Regions from separate parts of the Homo sapiens genome. Here region 2 is linked to region 1. Evidence: fine-mapped expression QTL. A gene starts in region 1. The other region holds a variant in brackets. All regions are shown on one strand. Distances are from middle to middle. Region 1 holds the start of JUP (junction plakoglobin). Region 2 overlaps JUP (junction plakoglobin).

The links.
Region 2: its variant is fine-mapped to the expression of JUP in whole blood (TOPMed, PIP above 0.99).

The regions. Positions count from the first base shown.
Region 1 is chr17:41,783,779-41,789,145 of GRCh38, reverse strand. It overlaps JUP (junction plakoglobin), which reads left to right and starts at 2,435. Exons shown (of 14, transcript NM_002230.4): 1 at 2,435-2,558. RefSeq lists silencers at 2,467-2,766, 2,931-3,143.
Region 2 is chr17:41,757,805-41,763,171 of GRCh38, reverse strand. JUP (junction plakoglobin) reads left to right here. Exons shown (of 14, transcript NM_002230.4): 8 at 1-189; 9 at 4,302-4,457; 10 at 4,654-4,773. Among named protein-coding and RNA genes, the nearest start is that of HAP1, 26 kb to the right of the region's middle. The variant T/G (reference allele first, on the strand shown) is at 2,099.

The DNA.
Region 1 (5,367 bases):
GGTGACAAGCAGGTGGATGGGGCAGGGGTAAGGCAGGGATAAAGATAGGGAGGTAAGCTGGAGGATGGAGAGTTGAGGAAACAGGCAAAGGGCGGTGGCCCTGGTTATGGGATGGCCACTAGTTCAGGGATGTCCGTATCTCCCTGGCCCTGCTTTTGGATGGCGCAACTTCAGAAGGGAGAATGTTCAGCTACCATTCTTTTCTCTGGTGGGGAAAGTGGTCAAGGTTGCTGCTAAGGTACCTTCATCCAGCCCATCCTGTGTGCTAGCTTTGGGGCTGTAGAGCTTTGTTGATGGGGGACCCTTTTCTAAACCACCACTCCTCCAAAACCCACCCACACACGCTGCTTCTGCTTATCCTTCTATGAGCTCTTTGAAGGTTGGGATCATTTTTATTTCCTGTGTCACCAGGTTTTATTTTCTGTGTTCACCAGTGCCTAACATACAGTTGACAATGAATACTCAAGTGTTGAATGAAGGAATGTTTGTAGGGCCCTTGGCACACCATACAGCCACGAGCAGCATTCATGTCATCAACCACAGAAAGGAAGTGCCCTTGTCTTCTTAAGCTGCCTGTGAGAAGTCCTTTTTATTTTTTTGAGACAGAGTCTCACTCTGTCACCCAGGCTGGAGTGCAATGGCATGATCTCAGCTCACTGCAACCTCTGCCTCCCGGGTTCACGCCATTCTCCTGCCTCAGCCTCCCGAGTAGCTGGCATTACAGGTGCCCGCTGCCATGCCTGGCTAATTTCTGTATTTTCAGTAGAGATGGGGTTTCACCATGTCGGCCAGGCTGGTCTCGAACTCCTGACCTCAAGTGATCTGCCCACCTTGGCCTCCCAAATTGCTGGGATTACAGGCATGAGCCACCACGCCTGGCCGAGAAGTTCTCTCTGATCTCTACCCCAGGCTCTCCTATCGCAGAGGGGTGTGCTGCCCGGTTTATTTTTTTCTTTTCTTTTTTTTTTTTTTGTTTGAGATGGAGTCTCGCTCTGTCATGCCCAGGCTGGAGTGCAGTGACATGGTCTCGGCTCACTGCAACCTCCGCCTCCCAGGTTCAAGCAATTCTCCTGCCTCAGTCTCCCAGGCAGCTGGGATTATAGTTGCCCGCCACCACGCTCGGCTAACTTTTTGTATTTTTTGTAGAGATGGGGCTTCACCATATTGGCCAGGCTGGTGTTGAACTCCCGACCTCAGGTGATCCACCCGCCTTTGCCTCCCAAAATGCTGAGATTACAGGAGTGAGCCACTGCGCCTGGCCTGCCCCGTTTCTTTCATGCCAGGGCTGGATTTCCTTCAGATCTGCTGCTTGATGTTTCCAAGCCCACCAAAGCCTCCTGACACCAATACTGTATTTTTGTGCCAATTAATTGTTCTGTCTCTCCTCCAAGTGTTTGTGCCTTTTCTCTGCCCCTTCCCCATTGCCTTGACATTTTATGTCTATGCTCCTCTTCCATGAGGGGAACAGCTGGTTTGATGGTCCTTCAAATGAGAGGAAGGAGGTTCTAGCTTGGGGTGTGCCACTTTGTAGTTTTGTGACTTCTCTGAACTTCGGTTTCTTCATCTTTACAATGAGGGTCGTTTTCTCATCCTAACTATTTTTCAGAGCTGTCACAATAATTAAAAAAAAACATACCGTTAATTTAAATTTCTAACCTTTAGCAGTTTCTGAGTGCTTTCACAAACCTGACCTCATTTAATCCCCACATACTCCAGTGAGGTAGATATGGCTAATGTATCCAGTTTACAGAAGAGGAGAAACAGGGTGAAGTAACTTGCCTAAAATCATACCAAGTGGGAGAAGACCAAACCTGGCCTTCTAATTCTAAATCCCAGGAGTACTCCATCTTTCGGGAAAAAAATCCCACCCCAGCACAAAGCCTATGAAATGCTATACAAATATGTGATTACTACTTTGGGGCAAGGATGAATAAGCCCAAAGAAGCATCATGCCTGACGCTGAGTTGGCTGGCCGGTGAAGGCGTCTGTCCCTTCCCTTGGTATCCCTATGACTTACCTGTTGGACAGGTAGGGGGAAGGGGAGAGTAATGAGTCTCACCTGCTCAGAGCAAGGGTGGGGCAAGACACACCCCATCCCTTCCATTGGTTTTTTCCTTAGTCTTACTGACAGAGCCTTGTCCAATCAGGAGGAAGTAACTTTCTATCTGCCAATAGATGCAATGTTAGGATGAGACCTCAAGTTAGAGTCCATCCCTAGAGCCGACTGGCAGTCCCCGGGGCCAATGGCAAGCGGATAAACAGAGGCGGCCGTGGAAGAGGACTGGAGGCGAGGCTCCGCCCCTCCACGGGACAGTCAGGCGAGATAGCCAGTGAGCTCGCACCAGAGGGTGGGCGTCTCCCCCAGGGGCGGAGCTTCGAGGTGGCGAGGGGCGTGGCTTGGCTGTCAGGTCTCTTCGCCTTTTGTTCGGTTACTGAGTTGCTGCCTTGGCCAGAGTCCGGAGCAGCCGCCGCCCGACCACGCCGAGCTCAGTTCGCTGTCCGCGCCGGCTCCCACCCCGGCCCGACCCCGACCCGGCCCGGTCAGGCCCCATACTCAGGTGCGGGCTATCGGGGGCGCAGGTATCGTTGGGGACAGAGGGGTGGCGAGCGGCCGCGGGGCCGGTCCCAGCCGTCCCTGGGCAGGTGAGGGCCGGTGCCATCGAGCGCCACCCTGCACCGGCGGCAGGGGGCGCGCTGGGGTCCTGGGCGCGGCGACTTGGGGGTCGCGCGGTTCGGGCCGAGCGCGCCTCGGAGCTCCGCGAACCAGAGATCTGAGCAAGGCGGGGAGGGATCCGGACAGGTGCCTCCGGGGTCGCGCCTCCCCCGGGGCCCGCGCAGCTCGCCCGACGCCGCGTCCCTGACTCTCGCCCTGGGCTGGCGGGGGAGACTTTGCTCTGCTTCGACTGCGTCCCAGGGCTCACGCTGCAGTCAGGAATTTACCGTTTGGGGAACTTGCTGCCGCTGGTCTCTTTGGGGCCACCCTCACCCCACCCCACGCGTCATCCTCGCTTTCCCTCCCTCCCTACTCCCCCAGGCCTGGGTGGGGCCCTATTGTTTGCGCCCAGCTTGCCCAACTGTGGGGGCCGAGCGCACATTTTCCCAGCGACTCTGGCCCCACCTGCCGAGCAGGTGAGCGCACGGAGTCCAGAGGCCCTGCCCTCCAGCTCCCAGAGCCTCGTCGATACTACCTGCGGCGCCTCCCTCCACGCCGGTGGGAGCCCGGCTCTGGCTTCTTCAGCGGAGGTGGGATGGAGTGACTGGGGGGTGCAGGGCTCGGCTCAGTGTCCAGCTGGTGTCTGGCACCCGTGGCTCGCCCTGGGGTCTGGGGGGTGGGGTCTGTGCACGGATGAAGAATTCAGGGTCACCTGGCCCAGTTTCCAGTAGCTGTGGCTGCCAGAGTGTTGGTAGGGGAACAGGACCCGTCTTCTCTAACCTCTTATTGTTGGAAAAAATCACCCAAAACAAACTTTGCAGGAGGAAGTATTCACAGCAGCTTTATCTGGGGGTTTTCCCGTCTCCTTGCCCAAAACTTCCTTTAGGCTTAGGGGGTCCTTCCTGGTGCAAAACCCCTTCCCCCAGCCGGCCCCTGGCTGAACCTGGGCCGGTGCCTGGGCTCCGACCCTGTCTTCCCTGCCCCCACATTCATCCTGTTCGCTGGGCCCCAGGGGCCTGAGGTAGGGGCCGGGGTGGGGGGTGGAAAGTGCTGAGAGGGGAAGCAGCTTCTTCCTTCTCTTCCTGCCTCCTGGGACCACCACACCCCCTCAGACAAGGCCTGCGTAAGTGGTTGTCTCTCAAGCTCTGCCCCCTCCCCAGGAATGGGGGTGGGGCAGGGCTGGGCCAAACTGAGGAAGGTGGGGGGAGTGGTTGTTCTTGTCTTTTTTTTTTTGCCTCTACCCCATCCCCCACATTACTTAGCTGGCTGGTTATTGAGGCAGAAGCGCATGAGGCTGTGGGACTTGCCTTCCATTTGATTTCTGAATTGTGAAGGTGCATGCTTTCTGGAGGCCTGCACAGACCTTTCCCACCCGCTTTCCTGAAAGAATTTGACAGGGAAAGTGAGACCGCAGGAAGGCTTTTTGGGGGAAGGTTTCTTCAATGCTAGACTCTCTCAGGCAGAGCTGCATCGGGCCCCCTGCCTTCCCTGCTCCCAATTTCCTGAGACCGCCCCCCCCCACCCAGAATTGGGGATCTTGATCAGGGTTTGTACCCCGGTTTAAAAAAAAAATCTGAAATGTGGTCTTTTTGCAGGATTTGGAGCCCAGCCTCGTTGGGGAACAGAGAGAGAATACAACAGTTGGGTTCTCTCTCAGTCCTGGGGGTGGGAGAAAGATTGTGGGGGGCGGGGATCGAGAGTGCTTGGAGGGGAAGAGTCTACCACCTCTTTCTTTGTTGTAGATGGGGGAGTGAGGCTGGGGGCCCAGACTCAGCCCCTTTATCCTGGGTGGGGATCACGCTCAGCCCTGTGCTAGGGGGAAGTCAGTGTGGGAACTCAGATCCTTTTCTGCCGGGGGATGGGATTCTGCACCTCTGGGGAGCAACAGGAGCAGGGAGTTTGGGCAAAAATAACCTGCTTTCCCTCTTCTCTGTGCCAAGGTGGAGGAGGGGAGGGCATTGTAATTATGTTGGCTACATGATTAGTTTAGCTAATCTGGTTTGTGGCTGTGATGAAAAGATAATACTGAGGAAGTACTGCTAGGAGGTGCTTGGTGAAAACTGGCCACTGACTGGACTGGGGGATGCGGGGGAGGAGGAGAAGGTAGGACCCAGTTAGTCATTTCTTGCTAGATCAAGCCCCAGCTTGGGTGACTTGAGCCCTCCCACCCCCACTCCACCCCTCCCTTGCACCCTGGCTCCACCCCATTCCCTCTGGAGCCTCTGTTTGGGCTGCCAGGGCCGAGGCTTTGAGAATGCAGTGCATAGGAACGAAAAAGGTCGGGCTAGGGCTGCCAACCTTTTTCCCATCCTGGAGCCACCTTAGAGTGAGATGGGTCAATTGACTAGTCTACAGAAGGACTGTTTATTTGGAGAGATGGGACAGTGGGGCAGTTCTGAGCACAGGGCTTTGGGCTTGAACTGAGCTGGGTTTGAGACCCAGCTCTGTCTCTCATTACCTGAGCCTCAGTGACCTCTTTGGCAAAATGGGAATACTAATACCTATCTACCCAGTAAGTACTTGACAAACGGTAACTCAAGATCAAGGTAAGACTTTACAGAAACCAAGCACTTTCTTTTTTTTTTTTTTTTTTTTTTTTGAGATGGAGTCTCGCTCTGTCACCCAGGCTCACTGCAACCTCCGCCTCCTGGGTTCAAGTGATTCTCCTGCCTCAGCCTCCTGAGTAGCCAGGATTACAGGCGTGTGCCACCACC
Region 2 (5,367 bases), 26 kb after region 1:
GCTCTCATCCATGCCATCCTGCGTGCTGGTGACAAGGACGACATCACGGAGCCTGCCGTCTGCGCTCTGCGCCACCTCACTAGCCGCCACCCTGAGGCCGAGATGGCCCAGAACTCTGTGCGTCTCAACTATGGCATCCCAGCCATCGTGAAGCTGCTCAACCAGCCCAACCAGTGGCCACTGGTCAAGGTACTGCTGTTAGGCGAGGGGAAGGAGCTCCCTGCAGCAGGCTTAGGTGCTGTATTGGTATAGGCAAAGCCGCTGTAGCAAAGAAGCCCTAAATACAGTGGCTCGAATAAGACAGAAGTTTATTTCTCTCTCGTGTAATAGTTTAGACCTCAACAATGGCTCTGCTCTAAAATTCCAGAATTGGGATTTCTATCTTGTAGCTCTACCAGCCCCTAGGGCAGAGCTCAGAGTTCAAAATGCACATGAGTACCCTGGGTGGTTTCATTAAATTGCAGGTTCCAGGGCCAGGCACGGTGGCTCATGCCTGTAATCCCAACACTTTGGGAGGCAAAGGTAGGAGGATTGCTTGAGGCCAGGAATTTGAGACCAGCCTGGACAACATAGCAAGACCTGTCTCGACAACAATAACAACAACAGAAATTAGCCAGGTGTGGTGGTGCACGCCTGTGGTCCCAGCTACTGGGGAGGGGAGGCTCAGGTCGGAGGATCGCTTGAGCACAGGAGTTGGAGGTTACAGTGAGCTATGATTGCATCAGTGCACTCCAGCCTGGGTGACAGAGCAAGAACCCGTGTCTTAAAAGAAAAGAAAAACAGGAGGCTGGGTGCAGTGGCTCACATCTGTAGTTCCAGCACTTTGGGAGGTGCAGGCAGAGGCGGAAGCGGAAGGATCACTTGAGGCCAGGAGTTTGAGACCATCGTGGGTAACATAGTGAGACACCCATCTCTTACAAAAAATTTGGAAAAAAAAAAAAGCCCAAACAAATAAACAATCTAAAACACACACACACACACACACACACACACACTCTCTCTCTCTCTCTCTCTCTCTCTCTCTCTCTCTCTCTCTCTCTCTCTCTCTGTCTCTCTGCAGGCCTGCTGCAGAGGGCTTGCCATTCTGTATGTCTTTTTTTTGTTGTTTTGAGACAATGTCTATTGCCCAGGCTGGAGTGCAGTGGTACATTCTTGGCTCACTGCAACCTCTGCTTCCCGGGTTCAAGTGATTCTCCTGCCTTGGCCTCCTGAGTAGTTGGGATTACAGGTGCACGCCACCATGTCTGGATAATTTTTGTATTTTTAGTAGAGATGGGATTTTGCCATGTTGCTCAGACTGATCTTGAACTCCTGAACTCAAGTGATCCACCAGCCTCAGCCTCCCAAAGTACGGGGATTACAGGTGTGAGACACCAGGCCCGGACAATTCTGTATTTCTTCTTTTTTTTTTTTTTTTTGAGACGGAGTTTTGCTCTTATTGCCCAGGCTGGAGTGCAATGGTGCGATCTCGGCTTACTGCAACCTCCGCCTCCCGGGTTCAAGCGATTCTCCTGCATTTTTTAGTAGAGACGGGATTTCTCTATGTTGGTTAGGCTGGTCTTGAACTCCTGACTTCTGGTGATCCACCCACTTTGGCCTTCCAAAGTGCTAGGATTACAGGTGTGAGCCACTGCACCTGGCCCAATTCTGTATTTTTAACAAGCTCGCAGGTGCTGCTCCATGGAGCACATTTCTTATGCCACTGGGTGTAGACGAGAGGGTTGTCCTCACACGAATGAGTGGACTGTATCATCCCCACGGATGTGTTCTAGCCCTGAGAACTGGGGATGGCTAGCGGCCACCAGAAAGTGGCACACATCACTCCTGCTCACACCCCAGAACTTGGTCATTCAGCCACATCAAGGTGCAAGGAGGTTAGGAAGTGTGATCACCAGCCAGATGGCCGTGTGTCCTGCTGAAAATCAGGAGAGCCACTACAGAGACACAGGGCACAGAGGATTCTGGGGACGCTTAGCATCTCCCATAGGGAGTTGGGTGTGTGAAGGAGTGGGGTCTTCTTCTTGAGGCTACCTGGGTGGAAGAGAGCTAGCTGTGTGTCACTTCCCTGTCAGGTGGGGGAAGTGAGAGTGGGTCAGGG[T/G]GTGGGCAGACCCAAGGGACAGAGTTATGGGGGAAAGCGTTTGTGTGTGTGTATATCTATATGTAGAGACAAGGAAGGCAGCCAAAGGCAAGGTGGCATCTGGTGCCAGAGAGTGAGGAAGCTACCATCGATGAGGGTCTTGTCAACGGGCACAGGAGCCAGCTGGCAGGGGCATCCGCCAGCTACATTTAAGACAATTTAATAGTACAGACAGGCCAGGCGCAGTGGCTCACGCCTGTAATCCCAGCACTTTGGGAGGACGGGGCGGGAGGATTACCTGAAGTTAGGAGTTCGAGACCAGCCTGGCCAACATAGTAAGTCCCCGCCTCCACAAAAAATACAAAAATTAGCTGGCCATGGTGGCATGTGCCTGTAATCTCAGCTACTCGGAAGGCTGAGGCAGAAGAATTACTTGAACCCGGAAGGCAGAGGTTGCAGTGAGCTGAGATCGCTCATTGCACTCCAGCCTGGGTGACAGAGAGAGACTCCGTCTTGGAAAACAAAAACAAAAAACATGGCCAGGCGTGGTGGCTCACGCCTGTAATCCTAGCACTTTGGGAGGCCGAGGCGTGTGGATCACGAGGTCAGGAGATCGAGACCATCCTGGCTAACACGGTGAAACCCCATCTCTACTAAAAAAATACAAAGAAATTAGCCAGGCGTGGTGGCGGGCGCCTGTGGTCCCAGCTACTCAGGAGGCTGAGGCAGGAGAATGGTGTGAACCCGGGAGGCGGAGCTTGCAGTGAGCTGAGATCGCGCCACTGCACTCCAGCCTGGGCGACAGAGCGAGACTCCGTCTCAAAAAAAACAAACAAAAAAACAAACAAACAAAAAAAACCCAGTGCAGATAAGAATGACTCTAAGTGATTCTACACATTGAATTATTATTTTTTATTATTATTATTATTTTTGAGACAGATTCTTGCTCTGTTGCCCAGGCTGGAGTGCAGTGGCATGATCTCAGCTCACTGCAACCTCCGCCTCCCAGGTTCAAGCAATTCCCGGCTAATTTCTGTATTTTTAGTAGAGACGTGGTTTCACCATGTTGGCCAGGCTGGTCTCGAACTCCTGACCTAAAGTGATCTGCCTGCCTTGGCCTCCCAAAGTGCTAGGATTACAGGCGTGAGCCACTGCGCCCGGCCTATACATTGAATTAAAAAAAGAAAATTCATGTTTAGAAAAAAAAATGTCATTGTGACCCCTCCTTGATGCTTGGTCCCTGCTGCAAACCTGAGGTGGGACTTTGCATCCTAACCCAGCAGCTAAGTGGCAAGTGACTTTGGCAAGTCATTTGCCCTGTGCTCACGTCCCCATCTCACATGATTTTCATCCCTGTCCTCCTGGCGTCTTGTTTTGAGGATGAAATAGATGACACCTTGAGAGGCTCTGGGAGGCCAGAGTGGCTCCTCTGAGTCAAAGACCCTGGGGAGGAGATCTCAGGACACCTCTTTCCAGAGCTGCCCTGCTGGGGATTAATGACAATGTGAGCACCACCCAAGCAGGAGGCTTCGGGGGCACCTAGAGCACAGAATTCCTGAGAATCAGGCTTGGAGGACTATCAGAAAAGCAAGCAAGGTCATGGTGTCTGTGGGGGGTGGTTAAGAAAGAGGGGACAGGGTGAGGGGCCAGGCATGGGGCTGGCAGGATGTTCTGGAATGGGGTGTCATTTTAGCAAGGGCTATTAGAATTAGCCATGAGCAGCCGGACGTGGTAGCCCACACCTGTAATCCCAGCACTTTAGAAGGCAGAAGCAGGCGGATCACCTGAGGTCAGGGGTTCGAGGCCAGCCTGCCCAACATGGCGAAACCCCGTCTCTACTAAAAATACAAAAAATTAGCTGGGCATGGTGGCAGGCACCTGTAATCGCAGCTACTCAGGAGGCTGAGGCAGGAGAATCGCTTGAACCCAGGAGGTGGAGGTTGCAGTGAGGTGAGATTGCACCACTGCACTCCAGCCTGGGTGACAAGAGCGAAACTCTGTCTCAAAAAAAAAAAAAAAAAAGAATTAGCCATGAGCACTCCCAGATCCTGTGGATTAAGTGACATGGCTGGGATGGTCTCCTTCTCTGGATATTTTCCAGTATGTCTGTGTCTGGCCTCGGGGACAGAAGAGGTGAAGGAGGGAAGGGATACTTGAAGCTGGGAAGCTGGGATCCTTCAGATGTCCAAGAAGTGCCCCTGATCACTGCCCCTTTTTTTGCCAGGCAACCATCGGCTTGATCAGGAATCTGGCCCTGTGCCCAGCCAACCATGCCCCGCTGCAGGAGGCAGCGGTCATCCCCCGCCTCGTCCAACTGCTGGTGAAGGCCCACCAGGATGCCCAGCGCCACGTAGCTGCAGGCACACAGCAGCCCTACACGGTATGTGAGCTGGTGGTGCCTCTGACAGCCTTCCTGGGGGGTCAGGGTGTCCTCTGTGGGTGTGTGTGTGAATGGGGAGGTCAGTTGCAACTGATGCCAATTCCAAGAACCTGTGAAGTTCATTCGGCTGTCATGGGGAGGAGTTGTGGCCATGTCCAAGGCACCTGTCCCATGCCCCCTGCCTCCTCTCACACAGGATGGTGTGAGGATGGAGGAGATTGTGGAGGGCTGCACCGGAGCACTGCACATCCTCGCCCGGGACCCCATGAACCGCATGGAGATCTTCCGGCTCAACACCATTCCCCTGTTTGTGCAGGTGAGTCTGGGGCAGGTGGGCAGGAGAGGTCCCCCCACCACTGCTTAAAGGGCAAGGTTAGGAGTCCCAGATTTGGGAGGCCTGGACCAGGTATCAAGAGGTCTTTGGAGGAGTTTGGAGGAAAGTTGCCACTCCAGATTGACTACTTAGCAACCCCCTGCATGGGCATGGCTTTCTAAGCTTCAAAGCAAGGAAAGAGATCACAAATGGAAAAAAAAAACAAAAAACAAAAAAACTTGAGATTCAACCATATAAACATGAAAACCATCTGTATTTCAGAAAGAACCTAAAAAAGCATTTTTAAAAAATCAGCAAACTGGGAGAATATGTGCAAGTACCATAACAGACAAGAAGAGTCTAACATCTTTCACATCAGTGAGCTCATTAACACTAGATTCCAATGGTTAGATGAGGCAGAGTCACAGGTAATTTCAAGGTAGCTCATGAACAATGCTCAGCCCAGTTTAAAGCAGTAACACTTACTCCCCAGTGACGGCCCATTTTCCACTATGGAATTGCTACAGGGTGGAGGTGGGCAGTGCTGTGGGGTGTGTTGTCCGGCCTGCCTCACCCCTTTCCACCTCTCCCCTGCTT